7 linked regions of the Homo sapiens genome follow. The protein of the gene in region 5 purifies or fractionates together with the protein of the main gene of each other region. This does not show direct contact. Each region holds a gene or a part of one and is shown on either strand. Other genes may lie near its edges.

The links.
Region 1: the proteins of KLHL14 (region 5) and CCZ1 purify together in Homo sapiens (affinity purification with mass spectrometry, with the first as the bait; one large-scale study listed by BioGRID). This does not show direct contact.
Region 2: the proteins of KLHL14 (region 5) and ARHGAP35 purify together in Homo sapiens (affinity purification with mass spectrometry; one large-scale study listed by BioGRID and IntAct). This does not show direct contact.
Region 3: the proteins of KLHL14 (region 5) and NEU3 purify together in Homo sapiens (affinity purification with mass spectrometry; one large-scale study listed by BioGRID and IntAct). This does not show direct contact.
Region 4: the proteins of KLHL14 (region 5) and TANGO6 purify together in Homo sapiens (affinity purification with mass spectrometry; one large-scale study listed by BioGRID and IntAct). This does not show direct contact.
Region 6: the proteins of KLHL14 (region 5) and TRAPPC8 purify together in Homo sapiens (affinity purification with mass spectrometry; one large-scale study listed by BioGRID and IntAct). This does not show direct contact.
Region 7: the proteins of KLHL14 (region 5) and MYO10 purify together in Homo sapiens (affinity purification with mass spectrometry; one large-scale study listed by BioGRID and IntAct). This does not show direct contact.

What each region holds. Positions count from the first base shown.
Region 1 is NC_000007.14:5,924,892-5,927,050, forward strand, and holds the end of CCZ1 (vacuolar fusion protein CCZ1 homolog), read left to right. Parts: intron 1-740; coding exon 741-796; 3' UTR 797-1,476; coding exon of another isoform or gene 1,477-1,657; 3' UTR 1,658-1,659; downstream 1,660-2,159. Other genes in the region: RSPH10B (radial spoke head 10 homolog B), read right to left, coding at 1,477-1,657. UniProt on the Homo sapiens protein: Acts in concert with MON1A, as a guanine exchange factor (GEF) for RAB7, promotes the exchange of GDP to GTP, converting it from an inactive GDP-bound form into an active GTP-bound form.
Region 2 is NC_000019.10:46,859,663-46,863,796, forward strand, and holds the start of ARHGAP35 (rho GTPase-activating protein 35), read left to right. Parts: upstream 1-1,334; 5' UTR 1,335-1,394; coding exon of another isoform or gene 1,395-1,658; intron 1,659-3,459; coding exon of another isoform or gene 3,460-3,546; intron 3,547-4,134. Other genes in the region: translation initiation factor IF-2-like, read right to left, coding at 563-1,234, 1,395-1,658, 3,460-3,546.
Region 3 is NC_000011.10:74,998,933-75,002,432, reverse strand, and holds part of NEU3 (sialidase-3), read right to left. Parts: intron 1,627-3,500; exon of another isoform or gene 1-1,626. UniProt on the Homo sapiens protein: Exo-alpha-sialidase that catalyzes the hydrolytic cleavage of the terminal sialic acid (N-acetylneuraminic acid, Neu5Ac) of a glycan moiety in the catabolism of glycolipids, glycoproteins and oligosacharides.
Region 4 is NC_000016.10:68,853,531-68,857,030, forward strand, and holds part of TANGO6 (transport and Golgi organization protein 6 homolog), read left to right. Parts: intron 1-3,500.
Region 5 is NC_000018.10:32,766,524-32,770,023, reverse strand, and holds part of KLHL14 (kelch-like protein 14), read left to right. Parts: coding exon 1-379; intron 380-3,500.
Region 6 is NC_000018.10:31,870,129-31,873,628, reverse strand, and holds part of TRAPPC8 (trafficking protein particle complex subunit 8), read left to right. Parts: intron 1-90; coding exon 91-199; intron 200-2,508; coding exon 2,509-2,703; intron 2,704-3,126; coding exon 3,127-3,257; coding exon of another isoform or gene 3,258-3,269; exon of another isoform or gene 3,270-3,272; intron 3,273-3,500. UniProt on the Homo sapiens protein: Plays a role in endoplasmic reticulum to Golgi apparatus trafficking at a very early stage. Maintains together with TBC1D14 the cycling pool of ATG9 required for initiation of autophagy. Involved in collagen secretion.
Region 7 is NC_000005.10:16,695,289-16,698,788, reverse strand, and holds part of MYO10 (unconventional myosin-X), read left to right. Parts: intron 1-3,500. UniProt on the Homo sapiens protein: Myosins are actin-based motor molecules with ATPase activity. Unconventional myosins serve in intracellular movements. MYO10 binds to actin filaments and actin bundles and functions as a plus end-directed motor.

The sequences.
Region 1 (2,159 bases), on a different chromosome or scaffold from region 5:
GCGCACTAGAAACATCAGTTAATGCAAGCCTGATCTAAACTGTGAATGTGGTAAGATCAAAATCCTGACCCCTCTGCGGAGCACTTGGTCTGCAGCTCAAGGTTGCTGTCCGTTTCTTTGTTGTTCCATTAGTTGTCCCAGGATGACAACCTTGTGCTTGGTGTGTGTCACCAGCCTTGTGCTTCTAACCCCCTCCCCTGGGTGTCCCGGGCACTTTGCAGTTTCTCAGGCCCCGGGCAGCAGTGTTGATAGGCTCAAAACTCCTGAGGCCTGGTAGGTTTTGTAGGTGGATTTTTTCCCCTCTTCTACTTGTTAACATTTCTTGGCTGGGCACAGTGGTTCATGCCTGTAATCCCAGCACTTTGGGAGACCAAGGTGGGCGGATCACTTGAGGTTAGGAGTTCGAGACCAGCCTGGCCAACATGGCGAAACCCTGTCTCTACCAAAAAATACAAACATTAGCAGGGCGTGGTGGTGTGCACCTGTAGTCCCAGCTACTTGGGAGGCAGAGGCTGCAGTGAGCCAAGATCACACCACTACACTCCAGCCTGGGTGACAGAGCAAGACTCTGTCTCAAACAAAAAAAAAAAAAAAAAATTCTTGCCTAGTCTTCTGGGATTTAAGGTCAAAATCAATGCAAATCTCTCTTCCTAATTTTACCCAAGAAGAATTTAATTATATATCATGTAACCTTTTAAGTGACTGCCTCTTCCTTCCTCACTGTTGTGTCCTTGTTGCAGAAGAGGTCAAGAAACTTTGTGCAACGCAGTTCAACAACATCTTCTTCTTGGATTGACGGATGACGGCTCACCGAGAGCATATCTAAAAAACACTCTGCAAACATTTGGTCACATGCAAGTTAGTGGTCATATGACGGACTGCATTCAGGACAAGGGTAAAGCAATACTTGCTTTGAAGAATCACATTTCGACTCGGTCTGCTGATCTGAGGTTTTTAGATTTTAAATATTTATGTGGAATTAATTAAAGGTAGTTGGCTATATCGCTATCATTTCATTCTTTTGACATTATGTGAATATTTTACTGGAAAATAAGACTAATAAATTGTTAAAAGTTTTTAAAATTCTGGTTTGGTGTTGAGTCTCTCTCCTGCTGCCTATTTATAGATTACACTGGCCACCAGCTCCGTGACCCAGGCTGGAATGCAATGGCTCACTGCAGCCTCAACCTCCTGAGCTCAAGCAATCCTCCCACCTCAGCCTCCCAAGAAGCTAGAACCACATGTACACACCACCACGGTCGGCTGATGTTTTAATTTTGCAGAGATGGGGGGGTCTCACTATGTTGCCCAGGCTGGTCTCGAACTCCCGTAATCCAGCCATGTAGGAAACCTGAGATGCAGTGGGCCAAGGGGTATGTTAAAACACTGTGACGAGTTCAGTGCTAAGAACTGTAATGCTCAGGAAATCTTACAGCACGTGCCATCCTAAGCCTGTGTGTGTGTCCTCGTGTCTCTCTACTTTTTCTTCTTCTTGCTGGTGATGGTCTTGCTGGATGGGGACACGGTCACATCCTCCTTGGGAGGGTCCAGTATGAGGTGAGAGGATGACACGTCTGCCGGCTCCTTGAGCACTGTGATGTCCACCTCATAGTCATGTCTCTTGGCCTCTTCCTCTCTCAAGATGAAGATGTTCAGCCTAAAAGCAAACATGAGAAGGTGGTAGCTTTTTTTATCCCCCTCCAAACTGCAAAACCAGTTTTAGGCTATTTATAGTATACAGCCCTTCATACCTGCATTTCAACAGCATGTGTAAACAAAACTGTAAGTTGCTACACTCTGCCTGAAATAACTGATGCCATGTCGACACAGTCCAAAATAAACTTCTCATCTATCTATGAAAAGAAAATTTTTTCTCGAGACAGACAGAGTTTCGCTCTTGTTGCCCAGGCTGGAGTGCAATGGTGCAATCTCGGCTCACTGTAACTTCCGCCTCCCGAGTTCAAGCGATTCTCCTGCCTCAGCCTCCTGAATAGCTGGGATTATAGGCTTCCGCTACCACGCCCGGCTAATATTTTGTATTTTTAGTAGAGATGGGTTTCACCAGGTTGGCCAGGCTGGTCTCAAACTCCTGACCTCAGGTGATCCACCCACCTCGGCCTCCCAAAGTTACGTGTGTGTGTGTGTGTGTGTGTGTATTA
Region 2 (4,134 bases), on a different chromosome or scaffold from region 5:
ACTATGTATGCAATGCATGATTTCAAGAGCTTTGCAAAATATAATCTATTTAATTTTCACAGCAGCCCTACGAGAGAGGTACGATTATTATCCCATTTTATAGATGAAGAGACTGATGGCAGAAATGCCAAATGTAATAGGAAACAGCCTTTCTTCATGCATTCCACAAATATTGGCTCGGCGCCCGGGAAGCTCATCTTCCACGATCTGTACTTCCGGAGGAGTCCCAGAGGAACACCTCCTCAGTTCAGAGGAGTCAAGGGTTACAGCGGTGCCCTCTCCCATCACTACTCTTTTCCCTTCAGGCGCCCTAATTGACATTCGATTTGTAGCCATTTGCACAATGCTAAGTGACAGGCTTGGGCTGCACACAGGACCAGGCCGTCTTCCCTCTCCTGGGGATCAGTCGTTCACAGAACCAAAAACAAGTTGCATGGACGCGCGCGTTGGCTGCAGATTTTCTTCACAGCCAGGAGAAAGAGCACGCGCTCTCCAGCCCCGCCTCTTCTTCCGGGACGACGAATTGCGGGGCTCGGATTGGGCTGAGGCGGGCCACGCCTCCTCATATCCTCCAATCAACTCCCTCTCTGGTGCGCTCCCTCCTTCTCAGCCCCGCCCCACCGCCCCACGTTACGTCGCTCCTTCTGGCCTCCTCCGTTATCCCGGCGGCTGCGGCTCGCGCGGCAAACCCACCTCCCATTGCTTCCCATTGGCTGGTCAGGTCCCGCGCGAGCGGGATCGCGCCCTTCGCCCCCCACCCCCAAAACCGGGCCATGCCTCTCTCCTTCGGCTTTCTCCAGGAGCCAGCGCGAGGCAGTAGATCGGCTGCTTGAGACGCGCGCGCAGCTCCTGCGGACCACTCCCTCCGCCCTGCGCCAGCAGCTGCGCCGGCTGGCAGCCCCCCGCGCACGCGCGCTCGCCCATCCCGCTCCCTCTGCTCGTTTGCAAGTCGCCTCGCGCTCAGTCGCGACGGCGGCCGCCGCAATAGCGGCATTTTCGGGGGCGCACGCGCACTGCACCGTCCGCGGCCGTTCCTAACCTCAGGCAGCGGCTGTGGCAGTAAGCCCCTCGGGTGCGCACGCGCTCTGACCTCTTCCCACTGCCTCGCTGGTTGTCCCTTCGCGGCGCGCGCCCAGGGGCCGTTATACCCCTGCAACGGTCCACGCGCCGCGCACGCGCAGTAGCGAGGGGGCGCGCGCGCGGGAGCGGCCGTCGCAGGAAGGAGGTGCCGCCGCTGCCGCCATTGCGAGGGAGGGAGGGAGGGAGGGAGTGAGCGAGGCTGGTCCGCCCTCCCCCTGGTTGCCGCCCCTCCCCCCTTCCCCTCCCCGCCCCCCGCCCCGAGGGAGAGCCGCGGCGCGGCGGCAGGAGGAGGTGGAGGAGGCGGAGGAGGGAACCCGCGAGGGAGGGTCCGCCCGGCCCCCCGCCGCCGGAGCCGCCGCCGCCGCCTCAGCCGCCGCTGGACTAGGAGCAGGGGAACATGGCGCCGGGGCCCCCGTCGTTGCTGCCGGGATTTTGGAGGCCGGGGCCGCGCTGAGGGCGCCCAGCTGGTGAGTGCGCGAGCTCACGGGCCCCGGGCGGCGAGGCCGGGCGCCGCCCCGCTGCGGGGTCCAGGGGGAGGCGGGGACGGCGGGGCCCGGAGCCCGCGAACAATGGAGGAGCTGGAGGGGGAGGGGAGGAGCGGCCCCCCCCCCAGCCCCCCGGGCCCCGCCGTCCCCGTCGCTTCGCGCGTCGGCCCGGCCCGTGGGGCCCTCCTGCCCTTTGGACCTGCCCCTGCCCGCCCCAGCCCTGCTGTCCCCGCCGCCGCCCCCATCCCCGACCCGTTGGGATCTCGGTGTCTGCCTCGGAGCCTACCCGACTTCAGCCAACCGGTTCCCAATTCTGCGCCCCCCTTCCCCCTTCCACCCCTCCATAATGCCCTTCGCTCCTCCCGGGCTCTGCAGTGCTCCTGGGACCCATCTTCTCCTCATTGACCATTCTGCATCTCTTAATTGTGGCTCCCACTTTTGAGATCCGTGACGCTTCTCCCTCTTCTCGATTCTGCTCTCACCACCCTTCAGATCTGTCCTCGGCCCCTTCTTTGACCTACCTTCTGTGCTATTATTCCTGTCTCAGAATCTGTTGCACCCTGGGAGCTGTCCCTTTAGGACCTGCGGTTCCAACCCTTTGGAGATCCATCTGAGACCCCTGTTCGGCCAGGCACTGCTGCCCCAGGTCTTCCCCTTGGACTGAATCCCGTTCCCTCGTGGGCCCTACTACCCGCATTTCTTGTCTGCCCTCTCGCAGAGCCTGCTGCACCCCGGGATGCCCCTCGGCTGGCTTTCTGACCCTTCCGTGCCCCAGCTCATTCCCCTGATCCCCTCGGACTTGGCTGCACCGTGCTTGCCTGTTCCCCTTCTCAGCTCTTGTTCCCGTTTACCATTCAGACCCTTTCCTCTCTTCCAGACCTTTCTGCCTCTCAGCTCTGCCCCTTGCCCGACCTCAGATCTTGCTGCGCTCCCCTCACCTGCTTGCTTCTGACTCTGCCTTCCCGGGAAGCAGCCTCCTCCCCCTTCTCTGACTCTGCAGGTCTCCCATTTCTGCTATTCACTTAAATGATGTATCCCTAACTCAGACTGCCTTCAGTTTCAGCCCGTGTTCTCTTGGAGGTTTCCTCTCTTCCCCACCTCCTTTTTGGCACTCCTCTGAGCTACTGCATTCATTTGCTTCTCCTTTCTTTGGCCTGTCTCTCCTTCAGTTCTCTGCCTGAAAACTGCTTCCTGTCCCCTCTTTGCTCCAATTCCTCTCCTCCCCGTTTTAGCCCTTAGACATGCCCTTTAACCTCACTATACCTCTGATACCTCCCGGGCTGGTCACCCATCCCCTTCCTGTTCTGCATCTCACAGACCTGCCCCTAGATCCATTTTGTACCTACACTTTCTTCTCGTTTTTTTCAATTCTGCTCCATCCTCTTTATTTAGTGTTTCCCTCCCCAGCTCGGCTCCTTCGGAGCTGTCCACTTGCCCGCATATTTTTAGACCGGTTTTTAACTTCTGTATTGCCGTCCTTTCTTGGAGCGGTCCTTTAACACTGGGGTTCTTGTCACTGTGTCCCCTCTCTGTTCCCTCCCGAGTCTTTTAAGTTTTCCACATGACAGTCTCTTCCCCCCACCATTTTGATTCAGCCCTCACCCTTCACTCTGCTTTATTTGCCCACCCTCCACTGTTCTGCCTCTTGTCTTCTTTTGGAGTTCTCACTCCAATTGTGACATTACGATGTCTTCTTAATCATTCTTTCCTATGTATTCCCCCCCACCTTCCTCTTGGAGCTGCCTCAGTGCTGTGATAGATTATCACTCCCCTTTGATATCCCTCTCCCAATTCTGTTCCTCTTGGACTTGTTTCCTTCCTCACCTTTTTTTTTTTTTTCCTTCCCCTTGTATCCTGCCAGGCTCCTTCTCTTCCCATTTAGTTCCTATCAGACCTGCTCCTCGCAGCTCACCACCCGTGGCCCACCCATTCCCCATTGAGCACTTCCCCTTTCAGGCATATCTTTCTTTCCATCCCTCTGCTGCAGAGGCAAAGGGGCTGGATTGGGCCTTAGGCTCTCCAGGCTCTGAGACTGCAGATTCTCTCTCTGCGCCCTAACCCTGAGGGTTCTCTCCCCAGGGATCCTGAGAGATCTGGGTAAATAGGTGGGGGTTGGTTGATTGTTACTACTCTCTGGAGTCTGGGAGTGTCTCCCCCATTTCCCCCACTTCCACTAGGTTAGTAGTGTGGGGGGAGGTAGATCTTTTTCCATTGCCCCATTTTCTTTCCTCTGCTGTTTGCTCTCTCCCTTCCTATCTCTGGGCTTTGCAGCTTTGTGTCCTTTGGAAAAGGGGATTGCAGCTGCTCGCAGATCTTTATTCTCTTTCTCACTTTCCCTCCTTCCTTCTCTGAGCCATTGCATAGAGTACCCTCTCTCCCCTTCCACCTCTAAGCCAGCAACCCTAGGAGTGTCCTTCCCTTCCCCCCCGCCTTCGCCCCTCCCCCCCAGCTAACAAGTTATTTCAATATATAGTTTTACCTCTAGCTGGGGAAATGCCAGTTCTCAAATTATCCCGATCCCACCAGGGGTTATGGCCACAGTTGGACCTAGGGAAGCTACAGTATTGCC
Region 3 (3,500 bases), on a different chromosome or scaffold from region 5:
ATCTTTTTATACTTTTTTTATTTTTCAGCTATATGAAATGTATTAACTACCTAAAACAAAAAATAAATTTAAAAAATTAATTTCTGTATAAATGGACAAAACAGATTAAGCAGGCGCAGATCATAGACTCTCAGAGCCATTTGCCTGAGGCCAGGAGTTTGAGATCAACTTGGGCAACATAGTGGGTCCTTATCTCTACAAAACATTTTTTTTTACATGATCTGGGTCTAGATAATTTTTACATTATCTACTTGGAAGTCTGAGGCAGGAGAATCACTTAAGTCCAGGAGTTTGAGGCAGCAGTGAGCTATGATCAATCACTGCACTCCACCCTAGGTGACAGATCAAGACCCTGTTTCAAAAACAAAAAAGAAATCTAAGCCATTATGGACCATAAGGGTTATCTAGTGCTAACTCCCATCCCACGGAAGAGTCCCCTCGCAGTCTTCTGGATAAAAGACCATTCCGTCCTTGAACTAAGCTAGTTCAACAGGGAATTCAAGATCTCTGGGACAGCCCATTCTATACCTGAGTGCCCTGAGCACACTAAACATGCCAGAGATATGTGATCAAGTCAGCTTACTTATTAAGCAGTCTAGTTTTTGAGAAGTCAGAAGTTTAGTCATCCTTAGTGGCTGAGAGAAGAAAATTATTTGAGCCAGGTATATCTAACATACAGTTGACATGAAGATGGAAAAAAGAGTAAACATAGCATGAAAGTCTTGGAATCTAAGATGCTCTCAACTAGCTGGAGCAATGGGACATATAAAACAAGCTGAGGCTTGACAGAGATAAAACAGGTTGTGGCTTAAAAATTTGCATGGGGTAAACTGATTAAAGAACAAATGTAGGCCAGGTGCTGTGGCTTATGCCTGTAATCCTAGTACTTTGGGAGGTCAAGGCGGGTGGATTACTTGAGGTCAGGAGTTTGAGACCAGCCTGGCCAACATGGTGAAACCCTGTCTCTACTAAAAATGCAAAAAAAATTAGCCAGGCATGGTGGCACACACCTGTAGTCCCAGCTACTTGGGAGGCTGTGGCAGGAGAATTGCTTTAACCCAGGAGGGAGAGGTTGCAGTGAGCCGAGTTGACCACTGTACTCCAGCCTGGGTGACAGAGTAAGACTCCATCTCAAAAAAAAAAAAAAGAAAAAAAAAAGAAAAAGAAAAACAAGAACAAACGTAATGGCCAACAAGCATATGAAAACATGTTCAGCATCACTAATTAATGGGGAAATACAACTAAAAAACACAATGAGGTATCACCCTGACAACTATTTGGACAGCTACCACACACACACACCAGAAAATGACAAATGTCGGTGGGGATGTGGAAAACTAGAACCACTGTGTACTGTTGGTAGGAATATAAAATGGTGTAGCCACTATGGAAAATGGCATGCCAGTTTCTCATTACATATAAAATTACCAAGTGATCCAGCAATTCCACTTCTGTGTTTATGTCCAAAAGAATTAAAAGCAAGGTCCCAAAGAGATATTTTCACACCCTTATTCATAGCAATGTTATTCACAATACCCAACAGGCAAAAGCAACCAAAGTATCCATCAAGAGATGAATGGAGCCCGGGCAACATACTGAAACCCCATTTCTACAATAAATAAATAAATAAATAAATAAATAAATAAATAAATAAATTAGCTGGGTATGGTGGCACACACTTGTAGTCCCAGCTACTCAGGAGGCAGAGGATTGCTTGAGCCCAGGAGTTCGAGGTTGCAGAGCCATGATCATGCCACTGCACTCCAGCCTGGGCAACAAAGTGAGACCCTGCCTCAAAAAAAAAAAAAATGTATAAACAAAATATGGTATATACATACAATGATATATTATTCAGCCTTAAATAGGAAGGAAATTCTGATACATGCTACAACATGGATGAAACTTGAGGACATTATATAAGTGAAATAAGCCATCACAAAAAGACAAACACTATACAATTCCACTTATATGAGATATCTAGAGTAGTCAAAATTATAGAAACAGAAAGTAGATTAGTGGTTGCCAGGGACTGAGGAGGGAGAAATGGGGAGCTGTTTAATGGGTGTAGACTTTCAGTTTTGAAAAATCAAAAGTTCTGAAGATTGGGTGCACAATTTGAATATACCTGGCACTACTGAACTATACACTTAAAAATGGTTAGGATGGTAAAATTTATGTTAGATGTATTTTACTACAATTAATTTTTTTTTTAAAAGAATAACAAATGTGAAAAAGACTTGGAGGTTTTGGCTGACCATCTACTCAACATTAGTCAATTGTGCTATGTAGCTACCAAGAAAGTGCTATTTTACTTTCAATTGCATTAAAGGGAATACAAGATAGGAGAGCTCACCTCATTGCTGAGCTGGCCTGTCTACCCTTGGAGTCCCAAGTTCAATTCTGAGTATCCTACTTTAAAAAAGGACACTGCTATCTCAGACCAGATCCCAACGACAGTAATCACAATTTTCAAGGGGCCAGAAACCAAATCAGGACTGTGCCCTAAGAAGTTACAGAAAGAACTGAAGCTGTTTAGCCCAGAAAACAGACTACTCAGAGGGCATGAATACAGCTTTCAGGTACTTCAGAGAGTAGTTCTCTGAAAAAGAGATTTTATCTACATTTTGTATAGACTGACTGCCCCAGAAGGCAGAACAAACCAATGGGTAATTATAGAGAAGTAGAGATCATCTCATTCACACATAAAAACCAGCTGCCACAGCAATCAGGTGCTCACCTGAAGAGTTGTGCAAGGAGACCCTTAATGGAAAATGACAAATGTTTAGTTCTTACTATGTAGTATCTATTATTAATTATATGTTGCAGCTGATGAAACAGAGAAGAGTCAAGTATCCAAGGCCAAAAAGCCAATAAATGATAGGTCTTGACTGACTCCAAAGCCATGCTCTTAATCACTAAGATTTCAGTAACTACCAATAGAATACAGATTTCTATATTGGGAAAGAATTGGGCTCATGATTCTTCTAACTTCAAGATTGTACAATTAAATAAGTCAGAGAATGAAATAAAGAGAGAATGAGTTAAAGTGGACAAGTTTGTGGATGTGTGTGACTACTGAGTAGTGAAGTTATGCAACAGGTGTGGTCTGATAAAAAATGCTTGCTGGGCTCAGTGGCACCTGCCTGTAGTGGCGGCTACTCAGGAGGCTTAGGTGAGAAGATTGCTTGAGGCCAGGAGTTTGAGGCTATAGTATGCAATGATCAAGCCTGTGAATAGCCACTGCACTCCCGCCTGGGCAATGCAGAGAGGGCTCGTCTCTAGACAGACAGACAGACAAACAGACAGTTAAAATTTAAAAGGCTGGGCACAGTGGTGTACACCTGTAGTCGTAGCTACTCAGGAGGCTGAGATAGGAAAATTGCTTGAGCCAGGAGTTCAAGACCAGCCTAGGCAACATAGAAGTTGTCTCTAAAAAATAGGATTAAAAAAAATGCTTAACAGCCTACTGTCTGTGATCAAAAACAGTGCAACATGACGAT
Region 4 (3,500 bases), on a different chromosome or scaffold from region 5:
AACATCTTTTTGGCTATGTGGGCTGTTTCCAGTTTTGGGGTATTATGAATAGTGCTGCTATGAACATTCTTGTACAAGTCTTTGTTATGAAAATGTATATTGTGTATTAATTTTTCTTGGACAAGTATGTTAGAGTGGAATTGCTGGATTATAGGGTAGGTATATGTTTGGTTTTCTAAGAAACTGCCAGACCAACTGAGCTTTGATCATGTCATACTTCTGCCAACAGTGTATGAGAGTTCCAGTTGCTTCACGTCATTTGGTAGTGTCAATCTTTGTAAATTTTAACCATTCCAGTGTATGTAGTGGTATCTCATTGTGGTTTTAATTTTCATTTCCCTAATAATTAATGATATTGAGCATCTTTTCATATGCAGTTGGTCATTTGAATAACTTCTTTTTTGAAGTATCTGAATAATTGTCCATTTTTTTAAAAAATAGTTTGTTTTATTGAGCTATAAACTGTTTTCATATATTCAGGATCAATGCGTTTGTCATATATATGTACTGCAAACATTTTCTCCCTATCTGTGGCTTGCCTTTTCATTTTTAGAACTGTATATTTTGAAAATAAGTTTTAAATTTTGATGAAGTCCAGTTTTTTTCCTTTTGGCTCATGCTTTTTATGTTTTAAGAATTCTGTCTGGGCACAGTGGCTCACACCTATAATCCCAGCACTTTAAGAGGCAGAGGCGGAAGAATTGCTTAAGCATAGGAGTTCAAGACCAGCCTGGGCAACATAGTGAGACCTCATCTCTATAAATAATTAGTCAAGCATGGTGGCACACAATTGTAATCCTAGCTACTAGGGAGCTGAGACAGGAGGATCACTTGAACCTGGGAGATTAAGGCTGCAGTGAGCTGGAATCAGGCCACTGCACTCCAGCCTGGGTGACAGAGCAAGACCCTGTTGCAAAAAAAGAAAAGAAACAAACCAAAATAAAACAAAAAACAAGAAATTGTTGTCTACTCTAGGATCATAAAAGACTTTCTTCTGTGTTTTCTTCCAGAAGTTTTATAGTTTAGATTTTGTATTTATGATCTGTTTTGGGTTAATTTTGGTGTGTGGTGTGAATTAAAGGTCAAAGTTTTTTTTTTTTTTTTTCCCCATGTGGATATCCAGTTGTTCCAACCTCATTTGGTAAAGGAATTTTCTTTCCCAGTTGTATTGATTTCATATCTTTATTGAAGATCAAATAGCCATATAAGTGTGGGACTGTTTCTGGGTTCCCAATTCTGTTTTACCAATCTACCTAACAGTCCTTATGCCAGTACCACATTGTCTTTAATTTCTGTAGTTCTATAGTAAGTTGGGTAGTATAAGTTCTCTAACATTGTTCTTGACTGTTCTGGGTCTTATAGGTTTCTATATAAATTTTTTAATCAGTTTGTCAATTTCTGCAAAAAGGTCTGTTGAGATTCTTATTGTAATTGCGTTGACTTTATAGATCAATTTGTGGACAATTGCCATCTTTTTTCTTTTTTTTTTTCCAAGACAGAGTCTTGCTCTGTCACCCAGGTTGGAGTCCAATGGCGTGATCTCAGCTTACTGCAACTACCCAGCTACCTGGGAGGCTGAGGCAGGAGAATCGCTTGAACCTGGGAAGTGGAGGTTGCAGTGAGCTGAGATCCGCCATTGCACTCCAGCCTGGGTGACAAGAATGAAGCTCCGTCTCAAAAAAAAATAAAACATAAAAAATTTCTCAGCAAGTTTTCAGTGTAGAGAGTTTGTATATTTTGTGTTAAATTTATCCTAAATTAAAGTTTTAGGCCAGGCGTGGTGGCTCACACCTGTAATGCCAGCACTTTGGGAGGCCAAGGCAGACAGATCACCTGAGCTCAGGAGTTTGAGACCAGCCTGGGCAACATGGTGAAACCCCATCTCTACTAAAATACAAGAGATCACCCGGGTGTGGTGGCATGCGCCTGTAGTCCCAGCTACTGGGGAGGCTGAGGCACGAGAATTGCTTGAACCCAGGAGGCAAAGCTTGCAGTGAGCCAAGATTGCACCACTGCACTTCAGCCTGGGAGACAAAACAAAACTGTCTCAAAAAAAAAAAGTTTTAAATTTCAGCCGGGCGTGGTGGTGCATGCCTGTAATCCCAGCACTTTGGGAGGCTGAGGCAGGTGGATCACCTGGTCAGGAGTTTGAGACCAGCCTGGCCAACATGGTGGAACCCGATCTCTACTAAAAATACAAAAAAATTAGCCAAGCATTATTACGGGTGCCTGTAATCCCAGCTATTCAGGAGGCTGAGGCAGGAGAATCTCTTGAACCTGGGAGGTGGAGGTTGCCGTGAGTTGAGATTGTGCCACCGCACTCTAGCCTTGACAGAGCAAGACTCAGTCTCAAAAAAAAAAAAAAAATTAAATTTCATTTTCTCATTTTTGCTGCAAATATAAAATAAAATGTCTTTTTTTGTTTTTTAATTTTTGTTTTATTGCTTGTATTCTGTGAACTTGCTAAATTAATTTATTAGTTCTAGTAGTTGTTTTATAGAGTCCTTAGGGCTTTTTACATAAACAATGATTCCATCTGTGAATATAAACAATTTTGCTTCTTCCTTTCTGCTCTTGTATGTCTTTTATTGCTGCTTTTGACCTATTTCAATGACAAAGATTTTCAGTAATATGTTGAATAGAAGTGAGAATAGACATCCTGTGTTTATTTTACTTCACCACTAAGTATGATGGTAACTGTAGGTTTGTCCGTGGATACCCTTTATCAGATCGTAGAAGTTCCCTTTTATTCTTAATTTGTGTCATGAACGAGTGTTGAATTTTGTCAAATGCTTTTTCTGCGTTTGTTGAAATGATCACGTGGGTTTTCTCCTTATACTGTTAATAAGATGAATCACACTGATTGAGTGTCAAGTGTTAAGCCAACTATGTATTCCTGGCATAAACCACACTTGGTAATGAAGTATTATTCTTTTCTATATCACTGCATTTGATTTGCTAATATTTAAGCATTTTTAAAAGTTATTAATAGATTCCGTTTTTTAGAACAGCTTTTGGTTTATAGAATATTTGAGCAGAAAGTACAGAGTTCCCATATACTCCCTTCCCTACCCCAAACCTAGTTTCCCCATTAACATCTTGCATTAGTGTACTACATTTGTTACAACTGATAAACCAATGTTGATACATTGTTATTAACTGAAGTAATAGTTTATATTAGGGTTCACTGTTTGTGTTATATAATTTTATGAGTTTTGACAAATGCATAATATCATATATCCATCATTATAGTCTCATACAGTATAGTTTCACCTCCCTAAAAAACCATGCTTCCTTGGCCAGGCGCGGTGGCTCATGCCTGTAATCCCAGCACTTTGGGAGGCTAAGGTGGGCGGATCACGAGGTCAGGAGATCGAGACCGTCCTGGCTAACACGGTGAAACCCCATCTCTACTAAAAATACAAAAAATTAGCCAGGCATGGTGGCGGGCCCCTGTAGTCCCAGCTACTCAGGAGGCTGAGGCCGGAGAATGGCCTGAA
Region 5 (3,500 bases):
GCAAGATCGCCGCGCTGCACGGCCTGGAGGAGACCAAGAAGCTGGCCAACAAGTACCTGGTGGAGGATGTGCTGCTGCTCAACTTCGAGGAGATGCGCGCCCTGCTGGACTCGCTGCCGCCCCCCGTGGAGTCGGAGCTGGCGCTCTTCCAGATGTCCGTGCTGTGGCTGGAGCACGACCGCGAGACCCGCATGCAGTATGCGCCTGACCTCATGAAGCGCCTCCGCTTCGCCCTCATCCCGGCCCCGGAGCTGGTGGAGCGGGTCCAGTCAGTGGATTTCATGCGAACCGACCCGGTCTGCCAGAAGCTGCTGCTGGACGCCATGAACTACCACCTGATGCCCTTCAGGCAGCACTGCAGGCAGAGCCTGGCCAGCAGGTAGGAGACAACAAAGAGGAGGGCGGGGGAGGGGGGGGTAGAGCCAGAGAGGCCGGAGGGAGGGGAGGGGGCAGGGAGGAGGGAAGAGATGGGTGGCCTGGGCGGGTGGCTCTGGCAGGATGAAAACAAACGCAAACAATTCAGAGTGTGTGAGGAAAGTTGATTTCAGAGTCCCTGAAAGGTCAATAGGGAACTGGCCTAGCAGCATCCCTGAGCGCTCCAAAGCCGAGGTTCTAGATATCCCCAGAGCCGTAAACATGGGAATTGTGGACTCAGACTGAAATTGACAGGCAGATGGGGCCAAAGGCCAGGACAGTTAGAAGTGTAGCTTTGGAAGTCTCTCTAAGCCAGCTCTCCCTACAAATCTTAAGATGGGCTTGCTCAAGAAAAAGGATCCTGTGGTGAGGAATGCCCACCCCACCCCTCCTCAGTTCTGCCTTGGGTGAGCAGAAGAGCCCAGGCGATGCTTGCAAAGGAAGGCTTTCATGGTCTTGCCGTCACACACTCAAGTTGTTTCTTCATGACTGGGATCTGCTCCCTGTCGATGTCAGAACTCCAAAATGCTTTGTCTATTAGGGTCACTATTGGAAATGCTGGTATCATGTGCCCAGGCAAACTTTTCTATGTTGTGGAAAGCCTTTCCTTTTCACTTTTAAAGGAGAGTAAAGCAAGAGATTTCAGGGTGATGGGGTGAATCTTGCCTAGCAACTCCCATTTCTGAGAAGAGTGCACTTGAAAATTGGGATGGAGGAGTGGAGAGGCTTCTAGCTCCAGTTGGTCTGTGTGCCTGCTCACCAGTGACAAAGAAGTTGGAGAGTTGCTGCTGCCTCTGTTGTTGCTAGTTAGAAATGTGGCTGTGTGTGTTGCAAGTAGGATTTCAGGGGAGAGAGAAATGATGCCTTTTAAAAATGCTGCTGAGATAAAAAGGCTGTAGGAATTGACAATCGTGTTTTATTGGCTCCAATTTTAAAACCATTTTTAATGAGCCCTAGCAAAGGGTTTCTTTCTCTTTTTAGAAAAGAGAAACAGTATCCTCTCAGTTTCTCATGATAAAACATCATGATTCCAGATGCCAGGCTACTCCAGCCTAACCACCAAAGTGTTACAAAGTGTAGCAAAGTACATGGTTTGAAAATCTAGCAGGGCATTTTCCCAGTCAGAATGATGTCTAAAGAATGGGGCCCACCTTGTGCAGCCTTATAGAATTAAATGGTGTGTGTGTGTGTGTGTGTGTGTGTGTGTGTGTGTGTGTGTCATTATGTTTCCACCAGACCTAGGTAACTAAAGTTTAAAGAAATGGAAGATACTCTCTACACTTTTTTAGGCAGCTCTTGTGTTAAGGAGAGGCCAACAGGAGGCATGAGAAATCTTGAACTTGTAACAAAACCCTGTAAGTTCATTTTTCTAACATCTGTGGGAGATGAGTTAACGAATCGTGTTGTCAAAAGATGATAATAGGACAATAGAAGAAACAAGAATCCAAATCCCCGTGTGCTTTTAACAGTGAGCACAAGAGGCCAATGAGGAAAAAAACATGAAACGTATTTTTATTTTATTGGAATTTTTCGTTTGTCTAAAGATCCAAATGGCAAACTCAGTGTGATGGGCGATGGGCCTTGGTGATTAATATTCTGTGATTTAAATTTTTGTCACTTTTAAATGACCTACAAGTATACTTCATTTAGCATATATCACACATAGTCAATAATTCAGACAACACAGTTATAGTTCTGAACATACATTTACTCATACTTTTAAAAATATGTATAACACGGTATAAATTCAGAAACCCAGAGGAATAATAAAATTAAGATTTAACTTATTCTAAGAGTAATTTTGGCAGAGGAGCTTTATAAATTTGATCCAGTAAATTTCTGAAGCCCTCAATGCACTTTTATCTAACAGGTATGTCCTAAGGTTCAATGTTAGAAGAGTTGACTTTCAAAATGCAAAATCCATTTCCCACTTTAGTCAAGATTCAGCACACCAGCTAGTGCCTGCTGGCTCTGTCCTGGTGGATGGCTGAGATACCAGGCTGCCTGGCTCCGTGACGACACCCTCCAGCTTCACTGGGCCACATCATTTGAAGGATATGTAGTGGTGTCTGACCACTGAATGCTTACAAGTGTCATGGATGCTGCAAGAATCTGATACTTCTGCAGTAGGAAGAAAACTGTATTTTCTTTTAAAAGAGAAAGATATAGAAAAGCAAATAGTTCATGCGAACCTATCATTGACCTCAAAGTAATATAATTTAGGTTTTATTCCTTTATTAGTAAAGGTAGCATTTTGAATTTTACAGACTAATTACATTATTTTAATTGTAATTCATAGGAAGAATGCCAAAATAACCATGAAGTTCCTAACTTTAAAGTAGACAGAAATGCTGTAAGTTGCAACCAACAATATTAAATCAGCCCATTTATTATAGCATCAGTGTAATATAAAAATGTTCCCTTAGCCTTATGTGTCATTTAACGGGGATAAATGTGTTAACCAATTGTTTTTGAGATTACATCACTTTCATTGAAGACAATTGAATAGAAGGACCTTGTATTTATTACTTTTTATCCACCTGTAGTTTTTAAACTCTAAATATAAAAGAGTTTCTTAAATTCAGAGAAGGAGATGAAAATGTAAAATTGACCAGTCTTTTGGAATAAGTACAAAGTATAAGCAAATAGAATAACTTCAAAAGAGAATTTACTTGTTTAAGAGTATATTATCTATAGAAAGTAGAGATATTAATATAATCATAATTTAAGCATTTTAAAGATTATTAATTTTGAGTTTTCATTAAGCCTAGAAAAGTAAAGGAACCCAAGTATGAAATCTTTATACAAATACTCAAATTAATATAAAATGTTCCCTCTTGTTGCTTGGTTTTTCTAAGTATACCAGTTGCACTTAAATTCATATTCCATTTTACCAAACTTAACATAAGGACAATAAGTAAAATAAGAAACTTGTCACTCTGTATTCAAATACACACATAAGTAATTTAAGATGACAGGATTGACAAAGGATATAAAGTTTCAGTTAGACGGGAAGAATAAGTTTTAGTGATCTATTGCACCAGCAACGTGACCACAGTTAGTAAAAAAGTATTACATATTTCAAA
Region 6 (3,500 bases), 900 kb from region 5:
TTTAATGCCTTGTGTATTAAGAAACGAGGAAACAAATAAAAATACCATTTTCACAAAAACTACTTTTTTTCCCTTTTATATTTCTCTCAGAATGTAAGTCAGCTGTCACCAGATGGTCCTTTGCCACAGCTTCCTTTACCGTATATTAACAGTTCAGCAACACGGGTTTTTTTTGGCCATGACAGACGACCAGCGGATGGTTAGTAAAGTTTTATTTAGCCTAATTACCTAATGACAATTTAAAAAAAACTTCTTTTCCTTTCTCCATTTAAAAAACGATGTATAGTTGAATATTTGAAAATTAATAGCTCAGCCGGGTACGATTGGCTCATGCCTGTAATCCCAGCACTTTGGGAGGCTGAGGCCGGCAGATCATGAGGTCAGGAGATCGAGACCATCCTGGCTAACATGGTGAAACCCCATCTCTACTAAAAATACAAAAAATTAGCTGGGCGTGGTGGCACATGCTTGTAGTCCCATCAACTCAAGAGGCTGAGGTAGGAGAATGGCGTGAACCCGGGAGGCGGAGGTTGCAGTGAGCTGAGATCACGACACTGCACTCCAGCCTGGGCGACAGAGTGAAACTTTGTCTCAAAAAAAAAAAAAAAAAAAAAAAAAAAAGGAAAATGAATAGCTCTCTATTACTTCTTTTGTCCTGTCACCTGAAGATAACTACTATTTTGGTGTTTCTCTTTCCAGCTTTAAAAACTAAAAACAATGAAATGAAAACAAAACAGTTGTAATTACAACAGCTTTTCTCACTTAAAGAATGCTTTTGTTATTATATAATCTTCATAAACGTTTAATGTTAGTAAAATATTCTATTCAGTGCTTATAAAGTACTTTATTTTAACATCCACTTGATATATATAGACTGTTTCCATCTTTTGCTTATATAAAATTATATTGTGGCCGGGTGTGGTGGCTCACACCTGTAATCCCAGCACTTTGGGAGGCCAAGACGGGCAGATCATGAGGTCAAGAGATTGAGACCATCCTGGCCAACATGGTGAAACCCTGTCTCTACTAAAAATACAAAAAACTAGCTGGGCGTGGTGGCATGCGCCTGTAGTCCCAGCTACTCGGGAGGCTGAATCAGGAGAATCGCTTGAACCCAGGAGGCGGAGGTTGCAGTAGCCGAGATCTCGCCACTGCGCTCCAGCAAGACTGTCTCAAAAAAAAAAAATCGTATTGTGATGGACATCTTTGTAGATAAAATTTGTTTTTTAAATGTCTTATGGAAATTTTCAAATGTACATAGAAGTAAAGAACAGTTACCAATGTTCTGCTGTTCTTGTAAGACTTTTTTTTAAATGCAGGATGATTTATTTAGGATTGAACCCTAGAATGGCAATAATGGAACAAAAGTATAAATATATTAAGCTCTTCATTATCTTACATTAAATAACTCAGAAACAGAAAGTCAAATACTACATGCTCCCATCGATAACTGGGGTTGGAGCTAAATAATGTGTACACATAGACATTGAGACTTGGGAGGGTAGGGAATGAAGGATGAGAAATTACTTATGGGTACAATGTATACTATTTGGGTGATGGCTACACGAAAAGCCCAGACTTTGCCACCAAGAAAATATGTCTGTATAACAAAACATAACTTGTACCCCCTAAATCTATACAAATATATTTTATATAAATGCATATATTTTAAAGCTCTCGATGGCTGTTAAACTTTGTCATTCTAAACATTCTTATATTTGAATTTAATCAACGTTTCTCCTTGAGATACGATTTAGTATTTTTTTTTTAAATTGTCATATTCATAGTAGCATTGTTTGTAGTAGCAAAAGAGTGAAAGAAATAGAATTCCTAATAGAGGATTAATTGATATGGTTTTGTATATTCACATAATGGATTCATGCTGCAGTACATGAGAATTCATGCTAATTCTACATTTCCCACAACTTGATGCTGAGTGAAGAGTCAATTACAGTATAAGTTTCAAACATAAAAACTAATTTTATGCATTTTTTAGATATACTTATGTGGTAAAATCATGGATGAAAATGATACACTTTAACTTTGGAATACCTCTGGGAAGAAGTGATGCCAGTGGGGGCGAAGGAGAGTAATAAGATTGGGGGTGGTGCAGAGAGGACATCGACTCTATCTGTGATGTTTTTTTTTTATTAAAAATATTTGGGATCATAGGTGAAAGTTGACATTTGTTAAATTTTAGTATACAAATATTTGTTATATTAGTCTCCATGCCTTTTCTGTATATTTGAAATGTTTTATATAAAAATTGCTTGTGGACACGAGGGAAAATACATTCTTTCAGAGTCAGGAGGAAAAGAACATCAGTATTATAAGCAAAATCCAGATAAGCTAGGATTAATGAGAGGATATTTTTCACTCAGAATTAGAAATAGGCAAGAGTGAATGTATATATATATATTTTTTTATTTCTGTACCTTATGTCTATTTAAAATATGTTTTATTTGAGGGCAAGTCTTCATAAACGTGTTGTTAACAAATTTTTTTTAGGTGAAAAACAAGCAGCTACTCATGTAAGTCTTGATCAAGAATATGATTCTGAATCCTCTCAGCAGTGGCGAGAACTTGAGGAACAAGTTGTTTCTGTGGTTAACAAAGGAGTAATTCCATCCAATTTTCATCCCACACAATACTGTTTGAACAGTTACTCAGATAATTCAAGATTTCCACTTGCAGTTGTAGAAGGTGATATACTTGAATTTTTATTTCTGTTTTTTATTTGTTTTACTTACAGCATGATGAAGATAATTTATTGTTTGGCACACATAATTGGTGCTGGGGATGCAAAAATAAATTAGGAACTCATAATTTACTGAGCTGCATTTATAAAACCAGACAAGGGGGACTCTTCTACAGCTATTTGCAATGTGATGTTGGAATATACAAGAGGGAATGGCATTCTTTAGTACAGAGAAATTGGGGAAATCTTTTCAAGGAGGTAATGTAGTATTACAACAGAATCCTGAATACGTGGACATTTATAAGGTAATAAAGGACAGTCTAGGCAGAAATGCAGAGCTATGAAAGCAAGATGCATTTAGAAGATCGAAGCTGAGAATGAGGTGTGATGTTTATTAAAGTTATTAATTTAGGCCTTTTTTTTAATAGAACCAATTACAGTGGAAGTGGCTTTTAGAAACCCTTTGAAAGTTCTACTTTTGTTGACTGATTTGTCATTGCTTTGGAAGTTTCATCCTAAAGATTTCAGTGGAAAGGATAATGAAGAAGTTAAACAACTAGTAAGTTATTAAAAGGTATTTGTAATTATGTTTCAGCTACAGCCTAACAAATGCTGTAGTAACATTTCAATGTACTCTGTTCAGTGAGCTATACTTCTTTTTGGTTTATTTTTCCTTAGTTATAAAAATTATGATATGTACTTATTTTTGAAAATTGAAAATACATAAAAACATAAGGAATAGAAGTGAAACCATCTGTCTTCATAATATTTAGAAATAACCACTTTAACATTTTGCTGTGTA
Region 7 (3,500 bases), on a different chromosome or scaffold from region 5:
AGCCGGGAGCGGTGGCGGGCTCCTGTAGTGCCAGCTACCTGAGAGGCTGAGGCAGGAGAATGGCGTGAACCCAGGAGGCGGAGCTTGCAGTGAGCCGAGATCGCGCCACTGCACCCCAGCCTGGGCGACAGAGCCAGACGCTGTCTCAAAAAAAAAAAAAAAAAACTGCATGTTCTCTCCTGCCAGGGATATTAGAGAGCCTAAAAGGATGTGCTAGACATGGGGGAAAGTGAAGATCTCACTGAGGCCCACTGCTGGCTTGAACTGCTCACCATACCTACTTCATGATGAGCATTTGCATTGTATGCTTTGATTGTTACTAACATTTGAGTATACTTTGCTGAACCTTAACACTTAGGGGCCTTGAGGCACACTCCTTTTGGAAAATTATTTACTATTTATTTATCTATTTATTTAGGTATTTATTTAAGACAGGGTCTTGCTCTGTTACCCAAGCTAGAGGGCAGTGGTGTGGTCATGGCTCACTGCAGCCTTGAACTCAGGTTCAAGCCATCTTCCTGCCGCAGCCTTCATAGGAGCTAGGACTGCAGGCGCACACCATCATGCCAGGCTAATTTTTTATAGAGATGGAATCTCACTATGTTGCCCAGGCTGGTCTCCAACTCTTGGCCTCAAGCAGTCCTCCCACCTTGGCCTCCCAAAGTGCAGGAATTGCAGGCATGAGCCACCATGCCTAGCCAGAAAATTATTTAATTATTTAATTGGGACCTCATATTTATGCTTTGTTCCTGTTCTTGACTCTGACTCGTAACTCAGTGACAGGGATAATAAGAAACCATAATCATCACCAATTTTGGGCAGGAGTTTTACGTGGATGGTTAAAAAGAAGGGACCGTCCTGTTTCTCGCATGGACCTAGACTGGAGAGGGGAGAGAGTCGAGAAGGTGGAGATGGGCAGGGATATGAGAACCTTCCTCCCCAGGTCTCCTCTTCCTGCTTTCTCCCATATTTGATTTTTAAATTTGTCTTCTTCCTTTTTCTTCACTTTCCTTTTTATTGCCGTCTTTCTTCATTTACATTTACATTTTCTTTTTTTTGTCTTCACCACCATGAAAACCTTTTTTTTTTTTGAGACAGGATCTTGCTCTGTTGCCCAGGCTGGAGTGCAATGGCACAGTCGTGGCTCACTGCAGCCTCCACCCCCGGGGTTCAAGTGATTCTCCTGCCTTAGCCTCCTGAGTAGCTGGGATTACAGGCACACGCCAATGCCCAGCTAATTTTTGTATTTTTAGTAGAGACAGGGTTTCACCATGTCGGCCAGGCTGGTCTCGAACTCCTAACCTTGTGATCTGCCCTCCTTGGCCTCCCAAAGTGCTGGGATTACAGGAGTGAGCCACCGCGCCCAGCCATGAAAACCCTTTTATTCCATTTTCCCTTCTTTCTTTCTGTGCTTCTCTTTTCTGTTAGCTTCTTTACGTTTTTTTCCACGTCTTTTCTTTTGTTATCTTCAATATTTTTTTTCTGTTTTCTTCACTTGTGGCTTTGTTTGCTGGATTCCTTTTTTGCTTCACCTGCTCCTCTTAGAAAACATGGGTCTAGTGACGACTGTCAGTCATTTGCCTTTCAGAGTTCTGCCATCCTCAGCTTTGGAGCCCCACAGTGCTCATGAAACCCCTAGAAGGTTTGGTTTAGGGGAGACTTTTAGTAGGACTGTTGGAATGAAAAACATCAAGGGTGAGGTAGCCAGCACTGGAACACCTGACAAAGGAAAAAATGTCATTGCAAATCAGAACCTTTGATCCAATAAGTATTTAATCATAGCATCTTAAGATTTTCTCAGTTAGAAATCATCTTAACTGTTTTTACTAATATATAATTCCCATTCCTCAATTTTTAATTCCCTAAGTTAATTTGAAAATTCTCTTCAATATTCCTCTTAATGTATGACATTGATTTTTTTTTTTTTTTTTTTGAGACAGAGTCTCGCTCTGTCACCCAGGCTGGAGTGCAGTGGTGCGAACTCGGCTCACCACAACTGCCGCCTCCCAAGTTTGAGCTATTCTTCTGGCTCAGCCTCCTGAGTAGCTGGGATTACAGGCGTGCGCCACCACGCCTGACTAATTTTTGTATTTTGAGTAGAGACGGGGTTTCACCATGTTGGCCAGGCTGGTCTTGAACTCTTGACCTTGTGATCCACCCGCCTCAGCCTCCCAAAGTGCTGGGATTACAGGCGTGAGACACCACGCCCGGCAGCATTGATTTATTATACAGTTACTGGATTAAAACCAGTAAGAGTAGGAAAAAAGTAAAGACACATTCAAAGTATTAAAATCAGGGTCAAAGAAGTTAAATGGGTGAGTTTTCGGCATCTCTTAAAGCTATTGTGTAAATGCAGCCTCATTTAATACTTAATAAAACTTTAATTAAAGCAGAGCCAAAAAGTTTCAGAGCAACGAATGAATGAAAAAGAAAATCTAATCACCAATTTATATTTTATGGGCATAAATAAATTTTTACAACCAAATAACCTACTAAAGATGTTTGCAATTAGGAAATTATAGCATTAAGTGATTCTCTAAATGATGAATTATCAAGAGAGGGCCTGAAATTGCAAAGGGAGGGCCAAGAGTGAGTGCTATCAATAAATAAATAAATAAATCTAATTAATCAATTAGATTAAATAAACTAATGGTGAGAGCTGTCGTGATGACTCTTCTAATCTTTGAAACAACTGTGAATAAGCTTTATCATTTAACAACAACAAGATAATAGAATAATTTTGCACAGTTTTCCTCCAGGCTTGTTTTGAGAAACCCAGATTAAAGTCACAAATCAAAACACTAATAATGTTTCATTCTGGTAGCCGTTGGCAAGTTTGCCATATGTTAGGACACGGCTCTGCAGCTTGGCACAATTACCAAAGATGTCTCAGCTAGATGAGCAGGGGCCTCTTGGACAAAAGGAGGGAGAGGAGTCTAGAAAGTTCAGTGAAGCAAGTGCACTGTCTGGTTTTCACACAGTGAACGCATAAAAGGATAGGATTATACTTACTTTAAATATCCCATGTTTAAATGACCCTTATTTTCATTACTGGTTGGTCAAAAGAAAATAATGTGTGGACAGTCTTATAATAACAGATGTGTGTCAGATGTTGATCTTGAGCAGGTTGGGGAATCTGGAATACAAAATTATCCTCCCTGAAGAGCATAGCAAGATTTTTTTATCCTATGAAAGATAACATCTGTATATTTAAGTTCAAATCTTAGTGTAGTTTGTACTCTTGCTTTCTTTTTTTTTTTTTCATAGTCTCAGTCTTATACCTGTAAACCATTTTCAGATGATGCTTTTCTTTGAAAAGATGTTTTTCTCCAAAAAGCCATATTGTCTTTACCTGTGTAAGTTAGACTTTATCAGTCAACCCTGGAATCACTGATAATTCTTGTTCGCACATTGACCAAATATGGAAGGAAATGGGTAAACTTTGTTTATTTTTTGAGACGGAGTCTCACTCTGTCACCCAGGCTGGAGTCTAGTGGTAC